2 linked regions of the Homo sapiens genome follow. The protein of the gene in region 2 purifies or fractionates together with the protein of the main gene of each other region. This does not show direct contact. Each region holds a gene or a part of one and is shown on either strand. Other genes may lie near its edges.

Region 1 (7,024 bases), about 30 Mb from region 2:
CTCCTTCACTTCCCCCCATCTCTGTATCATTACCCTGTTTCATCTTCAGGGTACTGTGACTATCTGAAATTATTTTGTTGTTTATTGTCTATCTTCCCACTTTATAAAAATAATCTCTGAGGGCAGGGCGATTTTGTCTATTTACTACAATATCCCCAATACATATATAATAATTCCTGGCACTTAAGAGGGTTTAATAAATATTTGCGGAATGAATGAATGAATAAATTATCTCTAGCTCAGCTCAAATCCATATATCCAACAGTTTACCAGATAAATCTACCTGGAAAACTCACAGATGCCTCAAATGCCAAACATCCAAAACTAAAATGATTGTTTTGACCACCTCACTCCTGTATCTGTACTGAATCAATGCCTTATCTCAGTGGCATTCCCATCTACCTTATTCTTCATGCCAGAAAAATGGGTGTGATACTTCCCTTCTCCCTCTCTACTGCTCCTTCAACCCTGTCAATCACCAAGTTCCATCCATTCGCCCTTTTAACTCTCTCTCAAATGAGGTAATTCATTTTTATCACCACAGACATTACCTAGTAGAAGTAAGCCATCACTAATACTTTACCAAGAATGCTTCAACAGCCTTCTGGCTTCCCTGCCTCCACTATGGTCTCTTCTAATATTTCAAGAATATGACTCTATTACCACTTTGACGTAAGTCATCACTGCTTCCTCTGCTTTTAAGATGATGTTTACTCTCCTTCTACGGTCTAAAGAAGTCTCTGGTTACCTCTTCTTCCTCATCAGTATCTACTGTTCAACTCATACTCCAGGGCTAAGTGATACTAAACATGTTTTAGCTCCCTAGCCTGCAGGTCTTTGCACATGCTGTTTCCTCTCTGTTGAACAGTATTCCTTTCCCCTCCCTCCTTTTCTGGCTAACTTCTACTAATCCTTAAAGTTCAAGAAGTCTACTTGGATTGACCCACCCCACCTCAAAAGGTGCTTTTTTCCATCTGTGCTCCCATAGCATGCTGAACTTCCTGATCATTTTACTCATAACTCTGTGTTATAACTGCTTTTTTTTGTTATTTGTCTTACTAAATACTCTGGTCAGGAGGGATAAATGTTATACCTGTATGCCAAACTTCAAGGAAACAAATGATTCAATTGTAGCACAAAATAATTAAAAAAAAACCGTTTTCATGAGACTGTAGATACAAATGTTCCAAATTCATGTTATTTTCTGCTACTCCCCAGAATGCTTTTAGTGTGTTGGAAGCTAGCATCACAGACACAGCACAAAAACCCTAAGAAACAGGTGGTAGAAACGCTGGTTGCAGAGTGGCCATTCTTAAGAACAGACAAGAAAAAGCTGCCTGGGCAAGGTGGCAACAAAATCCTAGAGAAAGCAGTTAATCTGTGCTTTTCCAAACGTTGTGCTTATCTATCTACAGTTTAGTACTTTTTAAAAAACCTTTTGGAAAGTAATCATAAGCATGTGGAAGTCCCCAACTTTCAAACACAACTATGAGGATCCCTTTTGTAAATCAAGCAAATATTCATTCAATAAAATCTACTTTTTATTTTTGAAGATGAATTTTATATATGTTGAAATGACTTACTTCAGGAAACATGTGCCTAAACTTTCTAAGGTAAGTCTGATACTTGAAACAGAGGTTTTCAGTACAAACATTAAAAAGCCATTATGGAAGTGAGGCTGCATGCCAATTCAGTCAGCTTGAGTTAATGAAAAATAAATATTTGTCAGAAAATATTGCTAAAATGATTTGTGTCTTAAGATACGAACCATACCACCAAAATCGCCAAAAGGCACAAGAGAACAACTCGTTGCCTGGAAAAATAATATCCAATTCATTTGATTATGACATTTATTATATAGAAGTTTCTCAATTTACCAATTAAATGTTTACTGAATTTCAAATTGCTACATTTCAATTGCTGAGATTCATCTTTATAGAAACCCCTGAGGGCTTGTTATCTTAGAACTATCATTCATGAGGCTGAAAAAGCAAAAGAAATAAAAGAGGCAAAAAAGAAAATGGTTACAATATATAAATATCCTGTTTTTTTTTTAATTTTTAGTTGAGTATGTTTGTAACCTCTAGCTTTGCTCTAAGGCAAGACATATGAAAATATATTTCAGTTGTAAGGCTTTTGAGATACAAGCAAAGGTTAATCTAAGCTTTGAAGGTCCATACGTAACCATATAGAAGATCAGTGTTTCCTGGTCCAATAAAGACAATCCTTTGTAGCTTTTGATACTATTTTCAAGTATTAAAACAATGAGTATGGGAGAGAAAGGATATTTCCTTGCCTGTTCTAATTTCAGATATCAGAGGAAGTTATAAGGTGAGAAATGTATACATAAATATAAAAAATAATGGTTTAAGTTTTGCTTCTAATATATGCTTCTATGGACCTAACAGTTTTGGTAGCACAGTGAAATTCCATATAGCTGACAAGTCACTGTTCAGGATTCACCTTTCCAAAGGTCCCCCCTTTTATATAATAGTGATTTCTAGAACAAGAATATTAGTCATATCCTATCATTATAGATATATACTTCTGTAATACTTTTCTTCAAATTCCTACAGGGCCTTCTCACTAACTGTCTTAAAAAAAAGAACTTACAGTCAAAGAATCTTCACCATCATTATGTCCTCTACGATTATGAGCTCTCCCTCTACCATCAGAGATACTGAGCAAGTCTCTTCCAAAGGGTTCAGAAAAACTTCTTATCATCTGTCGCATATTTTCTCGGTGTGCAAGAATGGACTCACTGTTGAAAATATACATAATCATGAAAGATTCAGTGTTGGAGTTTAAATAGTAAGTAGGCAGGTAAATATTACAAATAATTATTTTGGGCTAATATGTTTGTTAGATAAAAGAAGAGTAGAAGAGAACTCTATTTTATTCATAAATAGAATAGAATTATCTCATAAAGATCCATTATTAGATGGTTCCCTACTTACAATGGTTTAAGTTAAGGTTTTTTGACTTTACTGTGGTATGAAAGCACTCCACATTCAGGAGAAACAGTACTTCAATGATCCATACAGCCATGCTGGTTTTCACTTTCAGTATAGTATTCAATAAATTACATGAGACATTCAACACTTTATAATAAAGTAGGCTTTATGTTAGATGATGTTGCCCAACTGTAAACTAATGTGTATGTTCTGATGATACTCGGTAGGTTAAGTGTATTAAATGCATTTTGATGTATAATATTTTCAATTTGCGATGGGTTCATTGGAATGTAATCTTATCGTTAAGTTGAGAAGCATCTGTAGTTATAAATAAAATTAATGAAAACCTGTTACTGTTATCCAATATAATTCATTTAATGCATAATAAAAAAAACATCTTTATTTATCCCATATTGCATAAAAATACCAACACTATAATCTGATATTTACCCTTTCATCACAAGTCTCATTAAAGAACCTAAATTTTTTTTTTTTACCTTATCACAGTGGTTTCCCAACTTTGTTCCAGTTGGACAGTTACTGACCCACTAATCAATTCCTTATTCCTCGTTCTAGAACTTAAGGTACACCATGATTGGAGCTCACTTTACCAAGGCAATCTTATGCTTTCCTGCAGCCCAGTGGAACTCCCTCTCCAATAGTCTGGCCTCCTTTCAGATTCTCCACTTCAGTTATTCTTCTTAGGTCACCCTTCCCCCTTCTAATTCCAATCCTCTGATGTCATCATAAAGAAGCTAGAAAGTTTTTAAAATTTTTTCTTGGCCAGGCGTGGTGCCTCATGCCTGTAATCCCCGCACTTTGGGAGGCTGAGTCAGGTGGATTGCTTGAGGTCGGGAGTTCAAGACCAGCCTGGCCAACATGGTAAAACCCCATCTCTACTAAAAATACAAAAATTAGCCGGGTGTGGTGACGTACGCCTATAATCCCAGCTACTCCGGAGGCTGAGGCAGGAGAATTGCTTGAACCCGGGAGGCAGAAGTTGCAGTGAGCCAAGATTGCACCATTGCACTCCAGACGGGGTGACAGAGCCAGACTCTGTCTCAAAAAAAAAAAAAAAAAAGAAATTTTCCTTGCAACTCCAGCTCAAAGGAGGAAGCTCAAAGGAGGAAGCTCAAAAATTCTGTCTTCTGCTCATAAGTCCAAGTAGAAAGAGCTTTTCCTCTGAATTTCATAGTATTTGTATACATAAACCTATTCCAAAAGAGCTCAGATTTATTCACACATTACCTTGGAGGTTAAAAAAAGCATAATTGTTCCAAGTGTGAGTTTAAGATTAGCAAACTGCTTAACTGGATTTGTGCTTGTATGTATAGACAGATGTTTTCATTCAGCCTTGTTTAGGCATAATTTACATTCAACGAAATTTACCAATTTTGTTGTACAGTTTGATGAATTTTAAAAAGTGCAGTCATAACCTCCACCATAATTAAGATGTAGAACATTTCTATCATTCCAAAAAGCTTCCTCGTCTCTTTGCAGATAATTACCTGCTCCTAGCCCTAGTTACCATGAATAGGCTTTCTGTCATTATAGTTTGGTCTTCTCCAGATTTCATATAATGGAATCACATAGTATGTCATCTTTTGTGTCTAGCTTCTTTCCCTTAGCATAATGCTTCTTTGATTCATCCATGTTGTTCTCTATTTCAGTTCATTCAGTTTTATTGCTAAGTTCATACATATATCAGTATCATAATCACAAAACTGTTTTTAGTTTTTGGCTATTATGAATAAAGCTACTATGAATATTTATGTACTAGTCTTTGTGTATACATAATTTGACTTAAGTAAACACCTCAGAGCAAGGACTGATGGCTTGTATTAGAAGAGTATGTAAATTTTATGAAAACTGTAACTGAGAGTTCCAGTTGCACTGCATTCTTGGTGAAATATAGGATAGTCAATGTTTAACTGTAGCCATTTGAGTGGTAGGGTCATAACATCTCATTGTAGTTTTATTTTGTATTATTTGTCATTCATGTATGTTCTTTGATAGAACCGTCTTTTCAAATACTTCCCCCATTTTTAAAAATCAGGTTATAAGAGTTCTTTATATATTCTGGACACAGACTTTTATCAGATACAGGTTTTAAATTTTTTCCCAGTCTTGGACTTGCCTTTTTCATTCTCTTAACATGAATATATTCAGCCACACAACCATGAATCTTTGTTAGGTCTTCAGTTTTTACCACATTTTGCTAATGTGTATAAGGATTTTGAGATGGGAAGATTATCCTGGATTATCCCAGTGGGCCCAATGTAATCACAAGGGTCCTTATGAGAAGGAGATAGTAGTGTCATAATCAGAAGATGCTACACTGCTGGCTTTAAAAATGGAGGAAGAGGCCAGAAGCCAAGGAACACAGCAGTATCTAGACGCTAGAAAAGACAAGGAAACAGATTCACCCCCATAAACTCCAGAAGGAATGTAGCCCTGCCAACACCTTGATTTTAGCCCAGGGAAACCCATTTTGGACTTCTGATCTCCACCATAAGATGATTTGTTGTTTTAAGTCTCTAAATATGTGGTAATTTGTTATAGAAGCAATAGGAAACTAATACAAGTTTTTTAATTTTAATTTTAAAATATACAAAAGTCTCACTCCTCTTTTAGAGTATAAGTTCTTCTAGAGTAGGAACTGTATCTTTATTCATTCATATTACCAACCTCTGTGCTTGACACACAGTATACATTATAAATGTTTATGGAGGGCTGGGCGCGGTGGCTCATGCCTGTAATCCCAGCACTTTGGGAGGCCGAGGTGGGTGGATCACGAAGTCAAGAGCTTGAGAAGAGCCTGGCCAACATGGTGAAACCCCGTTTCTACTAAAAGTACAAAAATTAGCTGGGTGTGGTGGTAGGTGCCTGTAATCCCAGCTACTCTGGAGGCTGAGGCAGGAGAATCACTTAAACCCGGGAAGTGGAGGTTGTGATGAGCCAAGATCATGCCATTGCACTCCAGCCTAGGCAATAGGGTGAGACTCCGTCTCAAAATAAAATAAAAAAAAATACAAAAATTCAAAATAAATAAATAAATAAATAATGTTTATGGAATTTGAACCATCCTATATATCAGATGGTCCCCCTACCATTTCTTGGCAAAATTACTAACTATTCTTAATTAAAGGCTCTGCTCACCTTGGTGCTTGCTACACAGAGAAAAATCTCCACTGCAACCAATGCCTGCAGTCTTGAAGTTCCTCCTTAGTGACTTTGGATTTTAGGGGAGGGGAAACTCCTATTTAAACTATACTTGGTTTTCTCTGGCCCAAGTATTTTAGTACATGGGACTTACATGTCCTGATGATAGTTCCAAGGGCTTCTTGTGCTTCAGTTTCAGCTGCTGCAGAGTAAGACCACCTGTATGTCTGAGAAACAACATCCTCAAATGAGGTTTGTTTATGCCATAGAAGCTTATGTCTTAATTGAGGCCATCCTGAATGTGGTCTCAAAATTTTGCGAATATCTATAAATATCTGTTTTTTATGATGCAGAAACACACGTATAAACTTTTTGTAGATTTGTAGTTCATTTTCCTGTCTTTAGATGAAAGCAACAAAACTGATGACTTAGAATGAGGGCAGTTTTTTTCTGCTTTTTTTTTTTTTTTTTTTTTTTTGAGACGGAGTCTCGCTCTCTTGCCCAGGCTGGAGTGCAGTGGCGCGATCTCGGCTCACTGCAAGCTCCGCCTCCTGGGTTCACGCCATTCTCCTGCCTCAGCCCCCCGAGTAGCTGGGACTACAGGCACCAGCCACCACACCCAGCTAATTTTTTGTACTTAGTAGAGACGGGGTTTCACCGTGTTAGCCAGGATGGTCTCAATCAATGTGTTATTCTGACATAACATGTATTAGTTATCTATTGCTGTTGTAACTTAGCAGCTTAAAACAACATTTGTTATGTCACAATTTCTGTTGATTAGGAATCAGGAGCAGTTTAGGTGGGTAGTTCTGACTCAGGGCCTCTCTGTAGGCTGCAATGAAGTTATCAGTTGAGGCTTTAGTCATCTCAAGTCTTGACTGGTGGAGAATCCACTTCCAAGTTCCTTC
Region 2 (7,795 bases):
TATTCCCACCATCCCTTCGGTCCCAGGTGTAGTCAACTACAGATGCCTGCTCTCTTTCCACTGAGCCACTGAGCCTGGTGCATGCTGTTCCCTTTGCATGGAACCACTCCCATGTTACAAGGCTCCTGCTTTATTAAGAAATAAATCACCAAACAGGTCACCTGTGTGTTTTAAATATTCACATTGAAGACATTAATGCCTTTGGTGCATCAAAAAGACATTGCATTATAATTGCGCTTGTCAAATGATAATTTCAGGGCTTAGAACAGAGTTCTCAACCTCGGTGCTGTTGACATTTGGGGCTGGATGATTCTTTGTGGTGGAGGCTGTCCTGTGCACTAGACAGGGATGTTCAGCAGCAGCCCTGCCTGGCCTCCACCCAGGAGATGCCAGTAGCAACTCCTCCAGTCATTGCCAAATGTCCCCTGGGGAGGGAGGACTGTCCCTGTTGAGAACCACTGATTTAGGAGATGAACTCCTCATGCCCCCAGGACAGGGTGGTCTGCAATGGGTACATGATCATAGCCATGTGATGAACACCTTCTTCCCACCTTGAAATGTTCCATGACTGAATGAACTACCTCCCTGGGGAAGGATGTCCAGTGTCGACATCCAAGACCCTTCATGTGTGTGAGGCCGACCCTGCTGGAACCTCCCTCTCCAAGCCCTGCCAAGGCGTCACCTCTTCTGACCAGCCTTCCCAGACGCCCCAGACAGTGTCACCTCTCCTTCCAGCGAGTGTTGCAGCTGCATTCGCACATTGGTGTGTGTCTGCTCCTTCCCCAGAGCCTGGGGTTGGGAGTTCCCTGCGTGGGAGGACAGGGGTGATGCTGCTGAATTCAACTGTTTCCAGCCCCCACTCAGACCAGTGCAGGGAAGAATTGTGAATCTGAATTGTTGGCCGCATAGGAGCCGCCCAGGCCCTTTGCTAGCAGACCTAGTAAGACCCAGATGTGCCCTGGACTCCAGGGAGCAGGCCTGGCTTGGGTGATGGGAGGGCCCAGGCTGAGAGAGGCACGAGGCAGCCAGACCTCCCGGTGAGGGACGGCAGGGCCCATGCTTTTGGAAACACAGCAGGGCTACAGGCCTCATGGAGGGCCTGTGTGCACATGTGTGACCATGTGTACAGGCGTGCTCACATGCATGGGGGCGTGGGTGCCTGAGCATACCTGTGGAAGTGTGGGGCACCCAATCTGACCTCCCTAAGAGCCCCAGCTTCCTGTAAGCCCCCGTCTTGCTTTGTTTTCTCTCACGGCATCTATGACACCTGCCATCATGTTAAATGTTCATGCATTATCAGTTTCTCCTATCTCCCCAACTGCATGTCAGCATCATAAGGGCAAGGCTTTGTCTGGTGCCTTCACTGACATATGGACCCCAGACCCAGGGGAGTGCCTGGTACACGGCACGTGTATGGACAACTGCTCAGGAAACGTGTGTGGGTGGCTGGGTGTGTGGGTGGCTGGGTGGCTGGGTGTGTGGGTGGCTGGGTGTGCAAATGGCTGGGTGTGTGGGTGGCTGGGTGGCTGGGTGTGCATGTGGCTGGGTGGGGGGGTGGCTGGGTGTGTGAATGGCTGGGTGTGTGGGTGGCTGGGTGGCTGGGTGTATGGGTGGCTGGGTGGCTGGGTGGCTGGGTGTATGGGTGGCTGGGTGGCTGGGTGGGTGGGTGGCTGGGTGGCTGGGTGTATGAGTGGCTGGGTGGCTGGCTGTGTGGGTGGCTGGGTGGGTGAGTGGCTGGCTGGGTGGGTGGGTGGCTGGGTGTGTGGGTGGCTGGGTGGGTGGGTGGCTAGGCATGTGGGTGGCTGGGTGGGTGAGTGGCTGGGTATGTGAGTGGCTGGGTGTGTGGGTAGCTGGGTATGTGTGTGGCTAGGTGGGTGGATTGATGGGTGTGTGTATGGGGAGATGGGTGGCTATCTGCTGGTACAGATGTGTGCATACGCATGCACGCCTTTACTCTGGAAGATACTTCAGGCTTTTTTGTTCTATACTGTTTCCAGAAAGACCCCGGAAATGCCACACCCCGGAAACTGCAGAGCCCCGTGGGTGAATGGAGAGGCTCTGGGGGTTGGATCCTCCTGGAGGCTTCGAGTAACTGAGGAACTCAGGGTAACAGCCCTGCCTAGGGTTGCTGTATGCCAGGGGGGCTGGGTGCTGGGACCCTGGAGGAGGGGAGCTGCCCTAACTGGCTGAAGCAACTTGGAACTCAGAGGGCCCCGCAAATGATGCCTTCACTCAGGCAGTAAACCCCTACTTGGGGCTAGATCTGAGCCTCCAGAGACCACATGAGCCACCACCAGGAAGGATGTACCTGGGTTGGGATGGCAGGGAAGGGATCTGGGCAACCCAGTGGGCACCTGTCATCACTGGCTTGGAGGACTGGGCAGGAAGGCTGCCTGAAGAGGTCTGAGAGCAGAGCTGAGATCGCCCTGGCACCACTGGGGAGGACGTGAGCTCACTGGCCCTTCTACGGTTGCGTAGCCCACCGCCTTCCCACCCCATGGGCCACCAATCTGCATGTAAGCCTGCCATGGGCCTGTCTGCCTACCATGGCTTCCACTGGCTCACCAGGCAGGCTGCCCTTTCATCTGTCTCTGCCCACCCATTATCGACACTGCCAGGATGCCAGCACACGCACACACAGCTCCTTCTCCATTCTGAGCTCCTCACAGTAACCCTGTGAGAGGGGACCATCATTACTTCCCTTTTACAGATGAGATGAGGACACTGGGGCACAGCCAGGTTATTGACTTCCCCAAGGACACATGGCTGGGGAGTGGCAGTGCTGGGGTTGGAACCCAGGCTGTGTCACCTGACAGGCTGAGCTCTTCCCCACTGTGGGATCTGCCCCTTGGCCCGTCTGTCTGTCCATCCGCCCATCCACTCTGTGACTGCCCACCGTTCAGCCCCTTCATTCGCCTGCCACTCTGTCCATCCAGCCGCCCGTCCATCCATCCATCGCTGTCGCCCATCCATCCTGGAGCTAATGCAGTTAGAGGACCAGGGGCCCTGAGGGGAGAGAAGGCCCCAAACTGCCCATCTGGCCGGGCCAGGGTGGCCGGGGGTGGGGTGGGCTGCCCAGGCCAGGCAGGCCTGCAGGGGGCTGGAGGGAATTAGCTGAGTGACTGCCAGGATCATCTAATTAGGAACTCTAGTGATAAGCAGATAGGATCGGGGGTGATTAGAATCCTTTTAAAAAGCCACTCCATTAATTACAGAGACAGAGAGGGGCCTCTGGCTGCTCCGAATACCAATTGGCTGCTTAATCGGCTCCATCAGCTCGCCCGGGGGAGACCTTCCTGGTACTGCTGTGTGACCTTCGGTGTGCCCTGCCCTCTCTGGGCCTCGCTTGGTCGCTGAAGGTCCTTCTCTCCCTGGCCATGGCTCGGGGTTGGCTTTAGGGTGGGCCTGAGATGAGGGACATGGGACATCTGAGGCCAGGAAGCCTAGGCTGGCTCCCCAGAGAGGGCAAATCCCCAAAAGCACCCACTGGTGAATGAGGACAGAGAGGCTTGAAGAGGGGAGGTGGCCTGACAGAATTGACGGTGGAGCGTGTGGGGCCTAAGTGTGCGCTCATGCCTGTGTGTCCCTGTCCCTCCAGCAGGCCCTATGGAGGCCTCAGAGCCCCTGATGCTCCCCACTGGCTCCCCAAAAACTGGCGTGGAAGGAGACTAGCCTGAACCCTTTGCAGAAGGGAAACTCCTCTGCACACTGCCCGGCTCCACGGTCCACAGCTCCCTTCATGGGGAGCTCCCCACAGGGGCCTCCATCTCAGGATGCCCTTGATGGTGAGGTGTGGGACCTGCTCCCAGGTGACACACCTGTTCCCGTAAGTCCTACCGAGTGGTCTGTTCTGTGTGCCCTAAGACAGCCCTGAATGGGCGGCAGTGAGGGGGTCTCCAGCCCTGTCTCCATCCTGGCTGACTCCCACAGACCCATCCCAGGAACAAGGGTTGGAGCAGGGCAGTGGCTGGAAGAAATTTCCCCTGGGAGTACAACGCAGACCAGAGCCAGGGTCTCCAACAAGGCAGGGAGGGCCAGGACGGGGAGGCGGCCACAGGATTCTTGGATGCCTCATCATACTAGGTCCTTTGTCTCTTAACATTGTTTTCACCACCCCTCCTCCACTGTCCTGATTCCATCGTCATGGAAACTTCAGGCTTCACCTTTACAATGTCAGGCCACCAACACCCTCAGCAGTGTCACCATCACCATCAACACCCCAGCGTCCCATCCCCATCTCCTCTACCACTGCCACCAGCCCCACTATCACTATCATCTCTGTCACCGTCACCACGGTGCTCTCCACCCGTGTCAGCATTGTGTCACCACCACATCACTGTCACCACACTTCCTCCACCTCCATCTCCACCCACCATCCCATCTGTGACATCACCTTATCAGCTCTGCCACCAGTATCAACCACTCACACCGCCTTTGCCATCACCACCGTCATTGCCCCCTCTACTACCACCACCATCACCACCACCGGGTCTGCCTCAGCCAGACCCACCACTGCCTCTAATTAGACTGCCACCATCATCACTGCCACCACCACTGCCCCTCCAATGCCTTCCTGATGTCACCATCTGCTTTCTCTCTGCTATCCTCACACCCAACTCCATCACAACCACCACCTTCATCTGAGCCGCCATCACCCTCACAGTACACAGCCCTCAAATGTGTACCAAGGAGGAGGACATTTACTACACGCTGCACCCTGAACAGTCTGGGACCAGCGGTCAGGGAACAAGGAATCGAGATGCTCACCTGCAGCTCCCAGGTGAGCGGCTCTCTAGAGCTTGCCTGGGAGCTGCTGAGGAGCTCACGGTATTCCAGGAAGCTCCCCATCCATGCCTCAGCCTGTGGCTCAGAAGCAGGGTCTTCGCAGAAGATTGCCCCGAGCTGTTGCAAAGCTCACCATTGTCACCTGCCTGCAACGGCCTCTCTTTTCCACTCTCCAAATCCCTTGTATTGGCAGGCTCTAGTCTGGAATTATACCGGTGATGGGATTCTGGAAAATCCCTCAGATTTCTCCAGGATGCAAGGAGACCATGGAAGAGGTTGGTGTAATGCCAAGTTAGCAACAGAAAATACAGAGCCCCACACCTCAGTGCCATCACCATCGCCATCGGCACTCACACCAGCATGTCCACCACTGTGTCCTTCTCACCCCTCGGCACCCCCCTCTACCATTGCCTCTTCCACAACCACCCTCACCACCATCCTCCATTAATAGCACAATTCCTGCCTCCTATCCCATCACCACCACGGGTGTCCCCGGCACCAGCAGCACCAACACTGCTCCCAGCAGAGCCATCGTTACCAGCCCCGCTGTCAGTCCCATCTTGAGCATCTGGCATATGTTGGAGAACTGCTCACTCCCTCTTCCCCATGGGAATCTCAGGCCTCTCTTCCTATTGCCCTGAGATTTGCAGAACCTTCCTGAAGGAAACATTCTTTGCCCCATGGATACTGGCCTTGACCATGGGATGCAGCAAGACTGCCACACATCATGGCCCAACAGAAGCTTTCAGAGGCAGCCCAAGTTCCTGCTGTCTCTGAGTGGCACTGTCATGAGAGAGGGGTGTGCAGGTCAGAGCTGATTCTCCAGCCTGGGACCCACAGTGAGAAGCTATGGGAGGTGGGGCCCTGGCAGCTGCCTGTAGGCACCAGTGAGTGAAGTGGGGGGAACTAGATGTTTGTCGTGAGCCACTGAGAGGTGGAAGCTGTCACTGTGGTATAGCCGAACAAGATACAACCTCTGCTACCTCCACCACCTTCACCTTCATCATCACCATTACTGTCACCACTGCCAACCACACCAATGGCTCACTAGGAGCCATTCCCATCACCTCCTCATCATACCTGCACCATCACTGCCAACCACAACAAAGGCTCGCTGTTACCATCTCCTCTGGCATGACCATCACCACCACCACTACCATCATCAATTACTCTCAAGCACAAGCCTTGCTGCTGTCACCACCAGCATCACCATCATCATGATCAACTCCACCATCACCCATAATTACTCTCCCCCTCACACCCACCATGACCATTACCTCCACATCAACACTGCTCCCATGGTCACCTCTACTATATAATGACACCTTATCCATCTCCATGGACACCCACCGTGCCTCTCCCCACCAGCAACACAGTCAACAGCAGTGCCTCTCCCACTGCCACCGCCATCATGGAGAACTGTGCAGGGCAAGCATCTTTCTCCCGCCCCAGGAACAAGCCTGCAAGGGACAGCAGGTGCTAACTGCTAACCGAGACATAGTGACAAAAATCCAGCCACAGAGATAAAGAATCAGGTTCATCTGTAGCTACATCCAGTGGAGAAGTTCTGCTCTTCAACTCCTCTGCTAAGCCACATGTGTCAGCAGGTGTAGGTGGGTGGATGCCCAGCATGGGGGTGCGAGTCGTGCTTTTGATAAGCTGCATGGAGGGACAGCGATGGTCACTGGAGGCTGGGTTTACAAAGTGTCTCTACAGTCTGTCTCCATTCCTCCTGGCATTTGGGATTGGTTAGAACACACACTGTCCCCTGCTAGGAGCCTGAAACCTAGCACCCATGAGCACTGAAAGAAAAGAGAGAGAGGGAGGATAATAGAAAGGGATGAAGACTAGAAAAAGGAAGAGGAGGAAGAAGGGAGGAATGAAGGAAGGAAGGAGGAAGGAAAGAAGCCAGGAGTGAAGAAGGGAGGGAAGGGAGAAGGGGGAAGGGGAGGGAGGAAGGAAAGAAAGAAGGAAGGAAGGAGAAAGGGAGGAAGGAAGGAAGGAAGGAAGGAGGAAATGAAGGAAGGAGGGGGAAGGGAGGGAGGGAGGAGGGAAGGAAGGCAGGGAACGGAAGGGAAGGGAAGGGAAAGAAGGAGGGAAGGAGGGAGGGAGGAAGGGAGGAAGGAAAGAAGGCAGGCAGGAAGGCTATCTTTAGTTAAGACTTGGTGACCCAAACATCTAGGCTCTTTATTGGTGTGGTTAGTAGGTGGTTTAGCATGGTTTTGATCTTAATTGGAGTGGGGTGAGGTGAAGGTAGGAACAGATATTAATCAGTATTGTGAATTGCTGTTTCTATATATGATCCAACACCAGAACAAGAATTAAAGGAATATAAATGCCTAAGAATATTTGGTTACCTCACTCACCTGATTCGTTTTCTAGGGCTGTTACAAATTATTACAAACTGGGTAGCTCAATACAAAAGAAATCTCTTCCCCCAGTTCTGGAGGCCAGAGGTCTGAAATCGAGGTGTTAGTGGGGCCGCACTCCCTCTGGAGGCTGCAGGGAGAACCCTCCTGGCCCCCAGCTTCCAGCTGCGTCAGTGTCCATCTCCTATACGGACATGTGTCACTGGATTTAGGGCCCACTCAGATAATCCAGGATGATCTCATCTCGACATCCTTAATTTAATTACATCCGAAAAGATCCTTTTTCCAAATAAGCTCACATTCAGAGGTTCCAAGGATTAGGATAGGAACATATCTTTTTGGGGGCCACCATTCAACCCACTACAGTCAGTAATCAATATTTATCATCAATTCCTATTTTTCTTACCAGAATTGAGTGGAACACTTCTTTGGATTTGCTGTCCGCTGCAGCCTTGGCCCTGGTTTCACATCCCCTCCCTCACTGACTCGCTGTGTGACCTTGAGCACTGTGTGTCTCTGAGCCTGGTTCATCCAAGAGTTTACCGACGGCCCTCGTGTGCCAGCCACTGTCCTAGACAGGGACAGACTTTCCCGCCTTTGTGGAGCTTACCCCGGAAGACCTGGCCAGATAATGGGCACAA

What was found.
Region 1: the proteins of DNAJB8 (region 2) and MLF1 purify together in Homo sapiens (affinity purification with mass spectrometry; 4 studies listed by BioGRID and IntAct, with this or other methods). This does not show direct contact.

What each region holds. Positions count from the first base shown.
Region 1 is NC_000003.12:158,588,171-158,595,194, reverse strand, and holds part of MLF1 (myeloid leukemia factor 1), read right to left. Parts: intron 6,344-7,024; coding exon of another isoform or gene 6,271-6,343; intron 2,762-6,270; coding exon 2,614-2,761; intron 1,814-2,613; coding exon 1,769-1,813; intron 1-1,768. UniProt on the Homo sapiens protein: Involved in lineage commitment of primary hemopoietic progenitors by restricting erythroid formation and enhancing myeloid formation.
Region 2 is NC_000003.12:128,463,879-128,471,673, reverse strand, and holds the start of DNAJB8 (dnaJ homolog subfamily B member 8), read left to right. Parts: upstream 1-4,783; 5' UTR 4,784-5,060; intron 5,061-6,237; 5' UTR 6,238-6,398; intron 6,399-7,560; exon of another isoform or gene 7,561-7,563; 5' UTR 7,564-7,795. UniProt on the Homo sapiens protein: Efficient suppressor of aggregation and toxicity of disease-associated polyglutamine proteins.